Linked DNA regions of Homo sapiens: region 1 is linked to region 2. A link means that fine-mapping ties the variant in region 2 to the expression of a gene that starts in the linked region. Tissue or cell type: whole blood. Region 2 holds a variant in brackets; the other region holds the start of a gene. Each region is shown on its reference strand, or each on the opposite one.

Evidence for each region. PIP is the estimated chance that this variant, and not a neighbour inherited with it, causes the effect.
Region 1: MBNL3 starts here. The variant in region 2 is the best candidate, but not a certain one, in a credible set for the expression of MBNL3 in whole blood (TOPMed, PIP 0.71).

The regions. Positions count from the first base shown.
Region 1 is chrX:132,485,733-132,494,065 of GRCh38, forward strand. MBNL3 (muscleblind like splicing regulator 3) reads right to left here and starts at 3,306. Exons shown (of 9, transcript NM_001386889.1): 1 at 3,119-3,306. RefSeq lists a silencer at 3,585-4,154 and an enhancer at 6,100-7,299.
Region 2 is chr16:187,779-196,085 of GRCh38, forward strand. It overlaps LUC7L (LUC7 like), which reads right to left. Exons shown (of 10, transcript NM_201412.3): 7 at 5,149-5,237; 8 at 2,763-2,792; 9 at 2,190-2,357; 10 at 1,212-1,561. The coding sequence ends at 1,420. Among named protein-coding and RNA genes, the nearest start is that of HBQ1, 11 kb to the left of the region's middle. The variant A/G (reference allele first, on the strand shown) is at 3,118.

The DNA.
Region 1 (8,333 bases), not on the chromosome of region 2:
CACAGTTTCTTCTCTTTCAGGAAAAGTGTCCATCTCATTTTAGCTGAGGCTCGGGTTTCTTTCTATATTTGAAGTGAGAGCTATATCACACCTAGAGAAAGGCAGAAAAATCCCACAAACACAACTTCTGATTTCTATTTTCTTGATATCACATACATTTGAATGAGGAAAAATCCATCTGTTTTGCCTAGTAGACAATGTCATAAGAAAACTCACCAGCATGGAAGAACCTTGATGAAGTAAAGGTGAGTGTAGCCTTCATGCTCTTACAGACACTTGATAATGTTAACATGGCAGTGACCATTATCTAACTTTAATTACAGGATGAAATTACTTGTCAAAAATGTACTATAACTTATGTACTGTCAGCTATGCCCCAATCCCTGTTTGTAAGCCTATCAGGCAACATTATTTATTTGAAAACAGAAAAATTCTGCCACCTTCCTGAATTTATTGTACTATAAGCAGAATAAAAGTAAAATGTTATCAATAGAAATCTTCATCATTTTAGAGCTTCTCACTCCATTCCCTCCCCTCGTCCCTCACACATAAAGGCAGCTGGGTGGAGAACAAAACTGTACTAAACTATACTGTCAACATCTGCACAACAGTCAAGAGACTGTCACTGTTCCAGCATGTGTGGTACTATACAATCACTCAAAAGACAAAACCTTTTTTATTCCCAAGCTGCTGTGATACTGGGAAGTATCACAGTGAAGCTGGAGAGATAATAATACACCTACTGGTCAAAAGCATGAAGTATACAAGTGCCTGGAAGTACAATGAGAGGCAAGAGAACCCTTTAGAAGCAAATACAATGCAGACAACTAGGGGAATGTACATTCTACTCTTCTTTGAATGTTTAGGTTCTTGTGAGTGCATAAAAATGCCTTCCGTTTAAATTAAAAGCTGTACCCAAAATCTATTCCACTGTGAGTTTATAAGCTATTCTTCTTTTTAATGTAACATTTATTAAGCACCTAGTTTGTGCAAAGCATTATCTAGGTAGAGGGTGGTGCAAGAGAATACCAAAGGTCCTTTGCTACCAGCTCATAATCATAAAAAGCAGCTGTTGTGAAATGCCTGAAGTGGACAGTTGAGGAAAAAAAAGGTACTTTATAATAGTCCTGGGAGTCATTACGATTGCTTAAAGTAGCAAAGGAAATTAGAGAAATGAAGTAGCTCTTAGAAGTAGAGCAAAACATGCAGTCACCACCTCTAGCCCAGCACTATATCAATTATCTCTCAAAACATTTTTTTTTTACAAACTCCTTCACTTATGTTTTCATATAAGGTCTCCAATCTCATCACTGTATGAGGCAGCAGAATGTTAACTGGCAAAATTTCCTAATTTCTCTGACACCAGTTTAGCTTGTCTATTCTGGCCTCAAGGTTTAGTATTTTCACTTTTCTTTCTTTCTTTTTTTCTTTTTTTTTAAGGATGCATTTGGTCCGAAGTCTTTTAGCAGCAAGGTAGCACATCCGGAAGCAAACAGTACTGAACTGGGATCTAAGTCCATAATCACTAAAAATGGGAGAAGTTGCTTTTTCTCATCCTCCCTTTACCAAAATGCAAGTGTTTATTGCTCTACCTGCAGGAACTCTCATTTTAGACATGAAGCAATGAATTGCCCCACATACTTCTTTCAAGAATAATATGAAAAACTGCTGAAAATTTGTTGTATAGTAATTCCATTGTAAACAGTTTGGTTGTTTGTTTCTAGGTAGACTACAGCACCTGGGCAGAAAACTGCACCATGCTTTAATAAGGGCAAAACAATATTTTTCTCCCTTTCCACACACTTGCTAAATTTAGTAGCAGAGCGTCTGCCAACCAAGTAGTTTCTACTGCTTTGGGAGAAGGAGTGAACAGCGATAGAATATTATCAGCTGAGCTGTGGGCAGAAGCCCATTTTAGTCTATATTTGAAGAAGTGTTGGTAAATATGAAAGCATCCCCCAAAAGTATCGCACATTAGAAAAAAGTTAAAAATTATTTTAAAAAGTAGTTAAACATTCAGGATTAGATTTTCATGGGCCAAGGAGAAGATGGAAATATAATCAGGAAAAATCCAAGGTGTCTGATAAGCCTCATTGTCTATTTACCTTTCACTGGAGGGGGAAACAAAACAAAACAAAATTCAGATAAATTGTATCAAGCATGGATGTTTAGTCATTCCCACATACCAACAATCTGTTTTCCAAACATTATATCAGTAATCACCCAAACGTTTATTCACTAAAGCAGGGAGTCCGCTTAATAAAAAAAGTACCAATCACTTCAAAATTAAATCTTGCAAGTTTTGTTTTAATTGATTCTTTCCCATGAAGTCTACCCACAAATACGGAGAGGCTGTGGGGATCCCAGCTCAATTTACAAACGATGTAAGAACATCTAGGAGAAAATAACTCCTTTAAAACATATTACTTTAATTAGAGCCACAATTAATTTATCTGTTTTATCTATCATCTAGCTAGCTAGCTAGCTAGCTAGCTATCTAAGAGTGCTCAGAAAAACACACAGTAGGTCTATTACCCTAATTATGAAACCACAACAAAGAATCACTTAAATGTCAACTTTCATTACTCGTCTGGGTTTAATTTCGTTTTCTTACCATAAAAGCTTATTGTGTGAGTGTTAAAAACTAAAGTTCCCTTTTTAATAGTCTCCTAAAATCTACTCTCATGCCCTTCAAACCCCAGTAGTAAAAGCGAGCTGCCCAAACGTGTTGACTCAGGGCAGGAAGAGACAAGGTTCTGCAAGGAAGCTGTGGCACTGCTCACGATATCGCGTGAAAATGGGGAAATTCGTTGTTAAAAAGCATTTGCTGATTATATGCCATGCAAGAAGTTCCTTTAAATTAAAAAGAAGAAAGTAGAAAAAAAGAAAGAAGGAAGGAAGGGGAGGAGGAAGAGAAGAGGAGGAAGAGAAGGAAGAAGAAAAAGGAGGAGGAGGAAAGGAGGAGGAAAATGATCAAAGCTCTAAAATCGCAACAAAGTTGCAGGATGACTTTTCCTCCTATTTGCTATTTTGTAAAATGAAGTTTAAAAGGCATTATTTCCTCGGCGTCCGAGGAAGGCAGCCTCTCTTACAAATCCCAATTCATCTCCAGCCTTACCTTACGCTGCTAGCGCAAACCCAGAGGCTAAGGGGCCCTGCTCTCAGCGGCAGCAGCAGGGGCAGCGGCAGCGACAGCGGCACATGCCATCTGTTAGCGGCAGAAGCAAAAGCAGCGCTGCGCGAGGTGGCCCCGGTGCCGGGAGAGCCTTTAGCAGGGGTGCATACTGAATGCCGCCATTTTAAAGCGAGGTTCCTGAAATCATTAGATATAAGCAAATTAAAGCCCGCCCCACCTCCAGAACTTCAGGGCTGGGACTTGCAACCCGGCTCCAAGTCGGCCGCTCTGGGGTATAAAATGTCAAGTCTACAGACACGCGCACGCTGACTCTCGGACGGAGGCGACGGTTCCCCCTCTCCCTTCGGCCCCCTTGACCCCTTCGTGCTTTTTGCAAGACTCCTTTCGGTTCCAGGGGCCAGAATACTTTCTTTTCTGGGCTCCTCGAGGCCCCTTCCCGGGGCCGGCCGGCGGGCTGTGGGAGGAGGGGACAAGGCCACGGGCCGGCCCTACCCGCTCCTCCCAGGCTCTTGGTTCAGTCCACTCGGAGCACACCTCGGAGCGCCCCAGCTCCCTCGCGGAGGCCGGGCGTGGGGCTCCCGCCCGGGCTCGCAGCTACCATAGCAACCCCGGTCCCAACCCCGCCCGGCCTTTGCCAAAGGCGTGCCCTCCTCCCGGGCCAGTGCCCTCCGCCGGACGCCAGACGTCCCCTCGCGCAGCCCCGCCGACCCCAGGCAGCCCGGGCTGGGGCCGCGCCTCCGTGCGTCCCGCGCCGGACAGACGCGGCACGCGGAGGGAAACGGCGCCAGCGAGGGGCTTTAGGCGCCAAAACGGAAACTCCCGCGAAACTCCGCGGGCCAGCGGAGCGCGGGCGGGCATCCGGAGCGCCGGACTCGGAAGCGGCGCACGCGGCCGCCCGGCCCCGCCCCGCCCGGCCAGGTAGCGCGGCGCCGCCGCCAACCTCACCTGGCTCCGCGCGCCGCTGCGGGACGGGCGGGAATGCGGCCAAGGGCCGCCCCGGCTCCCGCGCCCACCCCGGACTCTCTGGCCTCCGCCTCTCTCTCACTGCTCCCAAAGAGCGCCAAAAAGTCGCGCTGCGGCTCACGCTCGGAGTGCGGGCACTTTCTTCCTGTAGGGCGCTGTTTCGTCGCGAAATATATTCTTTGTGTGGTTCGCTCACTCGTGCCTGGTTCTCCGAGAGCGCAGCGCGGGCTTTATTCTCAGGGGGTGTGGCGCCTCGCCCCCAAACCCAGCAGCCCAGCCCCCGCTGCACAGACCCTTTGTCATTTCATTAGGAAGGGAAAGGGGGACAAATCATAACGCTCAGATTTTACAAAAGCGAAAACAAACGAAGCAGGCACACATCCCCAGAGGCGGGGTTGGGGTAGGGGTGCAAAGTTTCTGGCTCTTCAGGAACTGAAGTGCCAGTGAGAAAGGCAGTGTGGTTCACAGCGGGACGCTCATAGACACTTCCCAGACAGGTGAGGCGAAATGGGTCCTTTCAAAATTGATCTTAGTCGATGAATAAGTCCACTCGCTACAGGCTAAATAAATACATTCATACTCACCAGCTGCCTTCTTGGGGGTTTTATCTTTCATAAATGCCCCAATCGTTTATTTCCCTCTAAGAATTTCAGACAGGGAAATGCTGATCAGTGCAATCTGTTCCCCTTCTTCCACGGAGTTTGCAGGATAAGAGGAACCCTGAGGTAAGGTTCCAGATACTTTGGAAAATGGACAAAGCAAATGCAATTTTATATCTTGATTAAAAAGTGTGCATCTGCACAGGGAAATTACAAGTTTCGATTTAATGCAAGTGTAATAGGAGCACCAGCTGTCCCTTAATTGGAGCCCCACAATAATAAATGCGTGCTTTTATTTAATTTTACGAAGACAATTGTAGTTGATAACGCACACATATGCAGGATCGTCAGTGACAAGCTCATAGCAATTCATGGCTGCTTTCCTGTAATCAGCTACTTCACCCAGAGACAGAGTTCTACATGCTCTGCACAAAGTGCAAAACATTGCAGGAGATATTTAAGCAGCAGTTAGGTTGAAAAGTGGAGTGAATTCTCAGGCTAATTATACTTTTTAATTCTGATGGACTGATCCAAATAGAATTCTCCAGCTAATTTTAGGCAAGAAATCAATCTGTTTGTTAAGTGCAAGATAATAGAGTAGGATGGTAATGGCTGGGAGGACAAGACTGGGTACAAACTGCCCTTCAAATAATTGAGAAAACCCCCGATGGTTTTGGCAAGTATCGTGAAAGTCATTGGGACAATGCGCAGGGATGGTGTCCGATACTTTGTTATACTGGGTAGAAACATAGCATAAGTCAAGAGAGTAGGAGTTGCTAGTTATTTGAGAAAAGGGGGAAAAGACTCTAATTCCTAACCACCTCTTCCCACCTTCCTTCAAATTTGCCGAATTGCCTGAACTGCTGTAAAAGTCAAATGTGTCTGACATACAGGAAGTGGCTTTGGCAGTCCCAAGATCTACCACAGCAAAAAGTAGGCAGTGTTGGCTATCACAGTCAGCTAGAGAGAAGGGCATGGGTGAGTTACATAACTTTATACCCAATGCTCTAACAAATGAGGAACTGTTATCACAGTGAGTCAACAAAGGAGTCTTTATATTAAACATAGCTTGGGTCAACACCAGCTCTCTTACCTCTGTCCACCATTGCGAGCCACATCTGTGGGACATTCGGGGTTTTGCTAATAACACAAAAACTGGCTCAATCTTATTGAACTGCTGAAATAATTGTTTTGTCTTAAATTTAAGGCATAAATAGGTCAATTTGCTATTTTTTGGGATACTATAGCTTCAACATTGTCTCCTGCTTTTAATTTCTGGCCAGTGAAAATTGCAAATGAGACTTTATTATTCTCTCTTTCCCACACTGGAGGGGAAAGAAACCTTATAAACAAAGTTTAGCCTGGTAAACTGCCTTCCTTTTATCCAGGGTGGCATGACCTCCACAAATGAAGCTAGGCAAATTTCCATGCCACCAGGCCACTGGGGAATGTTGTCAAAGGCACTAAGAAATTGCTATTCCCTCCCCTCAGCATTTTAAAAAGGCCCATTTGCTCTCTGGGGTGGACTTACCTTGGAATTACTTTCTTTCCATTTTAGTAGAGTAGTTAGAGCTAGCCAACATTTTCTCTTCTGTTCTTCTCTTTAGGCATAATTGGTGGCATGACCCAGGAAAAATAGGGTCGTGTACTGACTGATATGCAAGATGAATTCTTACAATAATGTATGTACATTATAGTCTCAGAATACATATGCCTGTTCCCCCATTGCGTTTTGAGATCACCTGACAACCACTATCCTGATGGATCTTCAAAAGTCAGTGTCTTGCAACTCGGATTGAAAAATTAAGTCCCTGGCTGGGTGGAGTGGCTCACACCTGTAATCCCAGCACTTTGGGAGACCAAGGTAGGTGGATCACTTGAGGTCAGGAGTTCCAGACCAGCCTCGCCAACATGGTGAAACCCCGTCTCTACTAAAAATACAAAAATTAGCTGGGCATGGTGGCACGCACCTGTAGTCCCAGCTACTCAGGAGGCTGAGGCAGGAGGATCACTTGAGCCTGAGATCGTGCCACTGCACTCCAGCTTGGGCAACAGAGTGAGACTCTGTCTCAAATAATAATAATAATAATAGTAATAATAATAATAAGAAGAAGAAGAAGAAGAAGAAGGGAAGAAGGAGAAGGAGAAGAAGAAGAAGAAAGTCCCGTCCTTCTCTCCTACTCAGTCAAATGCAGGTGTGTAAGCAAACATTTCAACAAACCTAGGGGATATGCTTTTTCTGCTCTATGTCTTAACGCTTGAGATGGACACTTACACAAATGTAAGGCTAGGATTCTGGGTAAGGATGTAGTAACCTCTCAAGTAGCATGTTCTTCCAATAAATATAATTAACTTTGATGTAGGAAAGAATTCTAAAAGTTATGTGATGGTTTAATAACGAAACGATTATTGTACTCCACCACCAAACAAATGTTGCTGTATTTTTAAAGATGTCGCATAGGTGAAAAGTTAAACTCACGCATATATGAGTGAACCAGGGTCTTGAGAAGTTTTTGAACTTTCAACATATTCGATCAGAATTATCCTTTCACTCCTCTGCTAAGCCACATAACTCATTTATTATTCTTTGAAACAGACAGTCAACGTGTGCTATTGGACATTCAGGCAAGGCCGTGCTATGGACAAAAGGTGAAACATGTTTTTCTGTTTTGAACTTGTGGAATTATTCTCACTAGCCTATCAACAAGAGTATTATTTGCTACTGCTGTGTTCTAGCGATGGCTCCACAGGCTCCAGCCCCACAGCAGTATTTGTGGTCATTCCATACAGAAGCCTCTGGCCATTTAAGGGTGGTTCAAGAGCTAAAGACACTGATTATTCATTCATTCCTGAAGAGTCTTTTTCATTCAGAGTTGGGAATTTGGACTTTGGGGTTCAACACAGAGGTTCCTACTAAATAAACAGGAAGAAAGCAGAATCTGGTTGTTAAAAGGGTTTAAACAATCAAGTAAATGTTGGCTTCCAAGGTAACCCCTCTGTAAAATGTTACAGACTGTATTCTTACAGAAGAAACTATAAGGCAATTTAGTAACTAGTTGAATGCAGAAACAAATTGCAAGCATAGATAATAAATTGATCAATAACTCTCAGGTTGCAAAGAAAATTTCTGGAACTCAGTGTTTTTTTTTCACATGGACAAAATTGTCAGAATTATTTGGACATATTCTAATAAATACAGAAGAAAACAGGACAAATTTTTTTTAAAAAATCCTTCAAAGCACACCTGGGCCTGATGGATTTACAAGGTGAATTCTCTTCCAAGCCTTTTAAGAACATATTATACAAATTATCCTTGATTATTGAAAAGTATAGTATATTTCTTAAAATTGCCCTCAGAGGGAAATGTGCTAAGAATGATACAGATAAAATGATACAAAAAGGTAAGAACAATTTAAAAATGGAAGCATGATATAAAAAAGAAAAGTAAGCCCTATTCTCACTTAGAAATACGATAATTGTAACAGTAACCATTTAATGTAGAACTACTCTAGGCACTGTACTAAGTATTTTTCACAAATTAACTCATTTAATTCTCATAACAATCCTTGTAATTATTTTTATGTCCCCATAAAAACAGGAAAACTGAGGCTTGCTAAAAGTAAAAAAGTTATTAG
Region 2 (8,307 bases):
ATCTCGGTTCACTGCAACCTCTGGCTCCCGGGTTCAAACGATTCTCCTGTCTCAGCCTCCCAAGTAGCTGTGATTACAGGTGTCCGCCACCACACCCAGCTAATTTTTGTATATTGGTAGAGACAGGGTTTCACCATGTTGGCCAGGCTGGTCTCGAACTCCTGACCTCAGGTTATCTGCCTCCCAAAGTGCTGGGATTACAAGCGTGAGCCACCGCGTCCCCCTTTACTTTGGTCTTAAAGTACCTGCCTGATGTACAGCAGGTATGTTAGAAAGAACTGAAAGGTGTTGGCCAGGAGCGGTGGCTCACGCCTGTAATCCTAGCACTTTGGGAGGCCGAGGCGGGCAGATCCCGAGGTCAGGAGATCGAGACCATCCTGGCTAACAAGGTGAAACCCCGTTTCTACTAAAAATACAAAAAATTAGCCAGGCAAGGTGGCAGGCACCTGTAGTCCCAGCTACTCTGGAGGCTGAGGCAGGAGAATGGCGTGAACCTGGGAGGCGGAAGTTGCGGTGAGCTGAGATCACGCCACTGCACTCCAGCCTGGGCGACAGAGTGAGATTCCGTCTCAAAAAAAAAAAAAAAAGAACGAACTGAGAGGTGGGAAACATAATCAGCCCACATGGGACATGAGTCAAACCATTTTTTTTTTTTTTTTTTTTTTTTTTTTTTTTGAGATAGGGCTTTCTTGTCACCCAGGCTGGAGTGCAGTGGCGGAATCAAGGTTTGCCTCAGTGTCCTGTGCTCAACAGATCCTCCTGCCTCAGCCTTCTTAGTAGTAGCTGGGACTACAGGCATGTGTCACCATGCCCAGCCCCATGGGTCTTTGTTTTCTGCTAGTAACTTCAAAAGGGGACATGCAGTGTAACTCACCTGAGTCCCAAGTTAAGGCTATGGTAGCAGCTGAGCAGACAAGACAGCTTTTCCTAAATAAATGAATGCAGAATGGGGACCCCTCCCTCCTCCCCATGGGAGATGGGCAGCTCAGACACTCAGAAGGTTGTGTGGGAGCGAGCAAACAAACACCCATGCACACCTGGGTCCCGTCAGTCAGATGCAGGGGACAGGAAGTGCCCTGCCATCTACTGGATGCCAGAAGACAAGACGTGACCCACGAGTAAGTCACGGTTTCTGTGAGGTGCTGGTGGCACTGGCACAGGGTCACAGTGAAAAGCCTCTACGCAGAGGACAGCAGAAACCCCCCGCAGCCTCAGGAGGCAGCATCAGATTTATTTATTCCTACTCAACATGACCCGGGAACACAGGAGCAACTCTGTACACTTCTAGAAACTCACAGCTAGCTCCAAAACAATAGAAATTTTAAACTACAAAAGATGAGTTGTATTCAGCAAATATAAAGGGTAATTTTAGACTGTGTGAACGTTTATCAGACTATTTACAGCACCCGGGAGACGGGTTCAGATCTCGCCGGCCTCCTTCTCTTCTGACCTCCGTGAAGCCATCTTCCCGTTGGAGCTCTCAAGCCTCCAGTCCGGGGGCCCTCGCTCGCTCCGCCCGCTCTCCCAGGACTCCTCTCTGGATGCCCGCTCTCTGGAGAACCTGGGAAATGGGAACCAGAGGCTCAGTGGAGGCTGCTGCCCCCCTTCTGCTGGCCGCTCAGGCACTGACGATGGACCCGCAGACCAGGCCAGGCAAGGCCCTACATCCCCTATACCTGGAAACCCCCCGGAGGCCAACCAGACTTGCCCACCACATATGGAGTGTTAGATAGCCATTAAAAAGTGACCTTTGCGAAGATTTTTAATAAGGAGAGCCTTCACTGTAACATAAACAGTGCAAAGGAGAATACAACACTATATGCACAGAACATGACACTACGTAAAAACACAATGGAAAAAAAAATATCAAAAACAAAAACCAAAACAGAGGTAAGCAGGGCCTGGTCAGGACACAAGTCTCAGCCACTCTGAGCATGGACGCAACAGTGCACAGGCCCCAGGACGCAGGCAGGGGACAGTGCCTGTGCAGCCCATCACCTGGCGCCGTGCGAGCTCCTCCACAGCCCTCTCGCCTCTTCCCACACCTGAGTCCCGTTCACGACTCCCCAGCCCTACTCCTGAGGGTGAGCCCAGCCCCATCCCCACCAGACACGGCCCTCAGCAGACCCTGGGAACACAGAGAAGGGCTCACTCCTGGTTGCAGCTACCGAAGGAGTCAGAGTAGTTACTTGTATTTCGCACTTCGGTCCCGGGAAGCCCGACGATGTCCCCGGCTGTGGCTCCGGGAACGGCTGCGGTGGCGCCGATGTCTATCTCGGGACCGGGACCGGGACAATTTCCGTCGCTCTCGGGAGGTAGATCTTGACCGCCTCCGACGCCGATCCCGGGAGCGTGACCTGAACAATCAGAAGGCTCCAAGGCTGAGACTCTATAGGTGCCAACACTATGAGGGCCCCACCCCTCAGCAGATTCTGCTTGCTGCTTTACTGACATTTTCTCCTTTACTCCCACAAATTTAGGTTTAAAATATTTCCATCAGTTAATCTCCAATGGCTAGGTCCTTCCAATGAGGTCTCCTGAAAACATGTGGCCTGGATACTCCTGTCACCCTGCAGGCCCCGACCTTCCCTCTCATTAACACTGGGAACCCTCCACGGCACCAAGCAACCTCTTGCCCTGTGCCCTTCACAAGCCAGCCCTACCTGCCAGGTAACATTTGTAAAGGCATAATCATTAAATATTAAGAAAAATGCTTATGGAAAAAAAAATTTGAGAACATTTTAATGGACCTGGAAACCTACCTCCTGCGATCTCTGGTTCTTGATCCCGACCTAAAAGGGGGAAAAAAAGATGAACAAGGCCAGGCATGGTGGCTCACACCTGTAATCCCAGCACTTCGGGGAGGCCTAGGCAGGCAATCACCTGAGGTCACGAGCTGGAGACCAGCCTGGACAACGTGGTGAAACCCCGTCTCTACTGAGAACACAAAACCTGGCCAGGCGTGGTGGCGGGTGCCTGTAATCCCAGCTACTCAGGAGACTGAGGCAGGAAAATCACTTTAACCTAGGAGGCAGAGGTTGCAGTGAGCTGAGATTGTGCCACTGCACTCCAGCCTGGGCAACAAGAATAAAACTTTGTCTCAAAAAGAAAAAAAAA[A/G]AGTGAATGACTTCCCGAAAGCACCCCTATTCCTCACCCTCTTGGGGGAGGACTCCAAATTTAAGAAGTGAGGCACCTCCCCCAAAGACCTGCTGTTTTCAAGCTGCCTGCATGTTCCCAGTCTGAATGGGAAGTGCCAATGCTCCCATCCCCACAGCCACTCTGTGGCACACTCAGTGTCACCTGAGCCTCACAGACAGGCCCACATCCGAGCATCAGACGCAGCCCTGTAACATTACAAGGGCCGTGAAAAGTCTGTGCACACTGACTGTGCTGCACTCAAGTCCTACAAATGATTCTCCAGTCTTTACAACAGACACCAGCACAGAATGTGCAGACAGCGAGTGGGGCACACCAAAAACACAGAAAAGGAAAAGCAAAGCCCGAAGTTCCAGGCACAGGCTTCCTGTCAGGTGAGAGTCATCAGCTCATTCTGCCACACAACCAAGAGGCTGAAAAAGGCAAGCTATGAGGCCTCATTCTATGCCCGTAAGCCATTAAGGTCAAGTGGCCCCATGTACATCCGCAACACAAATGGCCTAAACATGACAGTGCATGTAAAAATGTAAACTCCATGCAAAAAATGGATTGTGTGTTTTGCTTAATATTTTCTTCTATACTGTTTAAGTTTCTCTCCAATCAGAATCTCCTGCTGGTAAAACAACAAACGGCCGGGCGTGGTGGCTCACGCTTGTAATCCCAGCACTCTGGGAGGCTGAGGCAGGCAGATCATGAGGTCAACAGATCGAGACCAGCCTGGCCAACATGGTGAAACCCTGTCTCTATTAAAAATACAAAAATTAGCTGGGCGTGATGGCACAGGCCTGTAGTCCCAGCTACTTGGGAGGCAGAGGCAGGAGACTCGCTTGAACCCAGGGGGTGGAGGCTGCAGTGAGCCGATATCGCACCACTGCACTCCAGCCTGGTGACAGAGCGAGACCCTGTCTCAAAAACAAACACAATAAACATTCGCCCTGAGTTATGCACTGAGGAATTATTTCAGGAAAAGTGGTTTGGGAACCTTCCTGGACAATGAGCTGTCTCCAGGAGGATGTGGATACTTCTGGCTCCTACCTCTTTGAACTCCAAACAGACTCAACAGCCCCACCTCAAGATGGCCTCTCAAGCTGAGTGTGGCCAGAGGCATCTTCTACTTCCCACCTCCTCCCACTCCAATACACCACACCCAGCCTTCCAACCTCACCAAGCAGCAACTCCGGGCCAGAAACCAGGAGACCAGCTTCATTTCCTCCTCTGCACGCTTCACACACTACCAGCAAATCCCATCAGTTCTATCCCAGAACTTTCCCCGACTCCTTGCACCCCTTACCTGGCTTAAACTGCCACCTCCTCCATCTGGATTTTCCCACCTAGCTCCCCAAGGTCCTGCTGCTTCTACTCCAGCCCAGCACGCTTGCCAAAGGGGAGCAGGCACCACCCCTCCTGCGTAAACAGGTGTCCAATGGCCCCATAGCACTCAGTAAGTAAACAGCAGTGCCCACACACAGCCTCCAACAGCTTGGATCCCTTACCTGACTGCCATGCACACACAGTCCTGCGCTGGGACGTGTTTTGTTTTGTTTTGTTGGACTGAATATGCTGTTTACTTTTTTTTTTTTTTTTTTTGGTTGAGATGGAGTCTCTGTTGCCCAGGCTAGAGTGCAGTGGCACGATCTCGGCTCACTGCAACCTCTGCCTCCCGGGCTCAAGTGATTCTCCCACCTCAGCCTCCGAGTAGCTAGGATTACAGGCTCATGCCAGCACGCCCAGCTAATTTCTGTATTTTTAGTAGAGACAAGGTTTCACCATGTTGGCCAGGCTGGTCTCGAACCCCTGACCTCAAGTGTTCTGCCCGCCTCAGCCTCCCAAACTGACAGGATTACAGGCGTGAGCCGCCAGGCCTGGCCTTACTATTTTCTTTTATAACGGCCTATTGGGCAGGCCCTGCCTATTCCAAGCAACAGTGGAATGGACCGAGCAGGGAATGCCCGAGGCCAATGCAGGCCATCCAGTGCCAGCCCTCAGGCTCACCTCCTGCTCAGACGCTCCTCCCGTTCCCTCTCCTCTCTCCTCCTCAAGCGATCCTGATTTCTCTTCTCCTGCTTTTCAGCGACAGTTTTCTAAATAAATGAAACAAAAAATGAGGAAGAGCAAGTTACACAAACCAGAGTGTGAATGCTACTTAACAAATCACCTTTATATGAGCTCAGTATTGGTAATTTAAAAATTGAAGGGACACTTTTAGGAAATGGGAATACTTTTTTTTTTCTCTTTGAAACGGTGTCTCACTGTCACCAGGCTGGAGTGCAGTGGCGTGATCTCGGCTCACTGCAACTTCCACCTCGAGTTCAACCTATTCTTCTGCCTCGGCCTCCCAAGTAGCTGGGATTACAGGCACATGCCACCACACCCAACTAATTTTTGTATTTTTAGTAGAGATGGGGTTTCACCATGTTGGCCAGGATGGTCTTGATCTCTTGACCTTGTGACCCGCCTGCCTCAGCCTCCCAAAGTGCTGGGATTACAGGCATGAGCCACCGCGCCCGGCCAACACATTCATTTTTAAAACTTCTTAATGAAGAAGATAACACATGAAAAAATGCTTTATCATTACATTTTTTTTTCCTGAGACAGAGTCCGCCCTGTTGCCCAGTGCAGTGGCGCGATCTTTGCTCACTGAAGCCTCTGCCTCCTGGGTTCAAGCGATTCTTCTGCCTCAGCCTCCTGAGTAGCTGGGATTACAAGCGTGCCAGCACGGCCGGCTAATTTTTGTATGTTTAGTAGAGACGGGGTTTCACCATGTTGGTCTGGCTTGTCGCAAACTCCTAACCTTGTGATATGCCTGCCTCGGCCTCCCAAAGTGCAGCAATTACAGGCGTGAGGCACTGCACCCGGCCTCGTTTACATTTACTTTTTTTTTTTTTTTGAGACGGAGTCTCGCTCTGTCACCCAGGCTGGAGTGCAGTGGCGCAATCTCGGCTCGCCGCAAGCTCCGCCTCCCGGGTTCACGCCATTCTCCTGTCCTGGCCTCCGGAGTAGCTGGGATTACAGGCGCCCGGCACTGCGCCCGGCTAATTTTTTGTATTTTTAGTAGAGACAGAGTTTCACCATGTTAGCCAGGATGGTCTCGATCTCCTGACCTCACGATCCGCCCGCCTCGGCCTCCCACAGTGCTGGGATTATAGGCATGAGCCACCGCGCTTGGCCACTTTTTTTTTTTTGAAACAGGGTCTTGCTCTGTCCACCCAGGCTGGATGGAGTGCAGTGGCGCAATCACAGCTCACCGGAGCCTTGACCTCCCAGGCTCAAGCAAGCCTCTTTAGCTCCGCCTCCTGAGTAGCTGGGACTATAGGCGTGTGCCACCATGGCAGACTAATCTTTAAACATTTTTTATGGAGATGGAATCTTGCTATGTTGCCCAGGCTGAGCTTGAACTCCTCAACTCAAGCAATCCTCCTGCCTTGGCCTCCCAAAGTGCTGGGGTTACAGGCCTGAACCACCCAGCCTATCATTAGATTTTAACAATGTGGTAACAAACTGTCTATTCTAAGTGGTGCTATACTTCTAACTCACAGGGAATTGATCACATTGTTTCAAACCAACCCAGATAGGTAGGAGACTGTACAAACTTTATGGTAAAAAAGGACGGATGTATCTCATCAAACACATCTTGCTACTGGGAGCAGAATCCCTACAGCCAAAAAGCAGCCCAACCTCAGGGTGCTGGGTGCTACGCTGGCTTTAGAACAAACTGAGTTGGAGGACAGCAGGCCAGGGGAGGTGGACCACAAATCCTCTGCAACTGGCTTTCAACACAGGATGATGTGAATCATCAGGCTTGATGAAGAAAGCAATATAAGGGGATGAGAAACCTCGCCAATGAAAATACCGTCAACACAAGCTGAGTGGAAAAGCACCGGGCACCGTTCTGTATACCCACTACTCCCAATATCAACTCTAAGACATTTAATGCCCCTCATCTGTGTCAAGTGAAGCCCTGAGTGGGAGCAAGTCAGAGCCAGTAAGACAAAGAATCACGAGTCTTCTCCATCCAGAGAGCCACGATGGCATAAGGATAATCTTCCATACCCAGTGTGGATGAGAGCACGCTCCCCACAAGGGCACGGAAAGTATGCAGAGCTGGGTGACTGGTATCTCCAGCTCTAAACTTTCACCCATGCTCATCCTGTGTCTGAAGCAGGGCACACATGGATGGACACCTTTAAGGTGATGTTTAAGGATGGCATTTAAGCCAGGTACGGTGGCTCATGCCATTTCAGCACTCTGGGAGGCTGAACTGGGAGGATCATGTGAGGACAGGAGTTTGAGACCAGCCTGGGAAACATAGTAAGACCTCCTACCTAAAAAAAAAAAATGAGCCAGATATGGTGGTGCATGCCTGTAGTCTCTGCTACTCAGGAGACTCAGGATGCAGGGCCACTTGAGTCCAGGAGTTCCAGGTTACAGTGACAATAAGCTATCAGCTACCATCACATCAGTACACTCCACCCTGGGTGCCAGAGGGAGACCCTGTCTCTGAAAAAAAAAACGAAAAAAATCCTCTGTTGTCTAGGTTGGAGTGTAGTGTCGTGATCACAGTTCACTGCAGCCTTGAGCTCCAAGGTCCAAACAATCCTCTTACCTCAGCCTCCTGAGTAGCTGGACCTACAGGCACACACCACCATGCTTGGCTAATTTTTAAATTTTTGGTAGAGACAGGGTCTCCTTATGTTGCCCACGCTGGTCTCAAACTCCTGGATTCAATCGATTCTCCTGCCTTGGCCTCCTAAAGACTGGAATTACAGGCGTGAGCCACCACACCCAGCCTCAAGGATGGCAGTTTTTAAAAAAATTAAGGATTAGCCAGGTGCAGTGGCTCATGTGTAATCCCAGCACTCTGGGAGGCCTAGGAAGGTGGATACCTCTGGGACTACTGTGAGTGAGGCCTCCTCTAACTAGGGCACAGAACTCCCACTCTCCCTATCATTAAGAGGTGCACTTCCAAATACATTGTGCACTGTTACTTTAATAATTATTTATCAAAGTCTGTAATACGAGTTGTGTTGTTTTGGTCAACTCTATGCTGCAATGATAAAACAAGCTTTCTAACCAAGTTAATGCTTCTTAAGGTAGAAGGGAAAAACATTTCACAATATTCACATTTCTAATGCAGAGATACACATTAAGGAA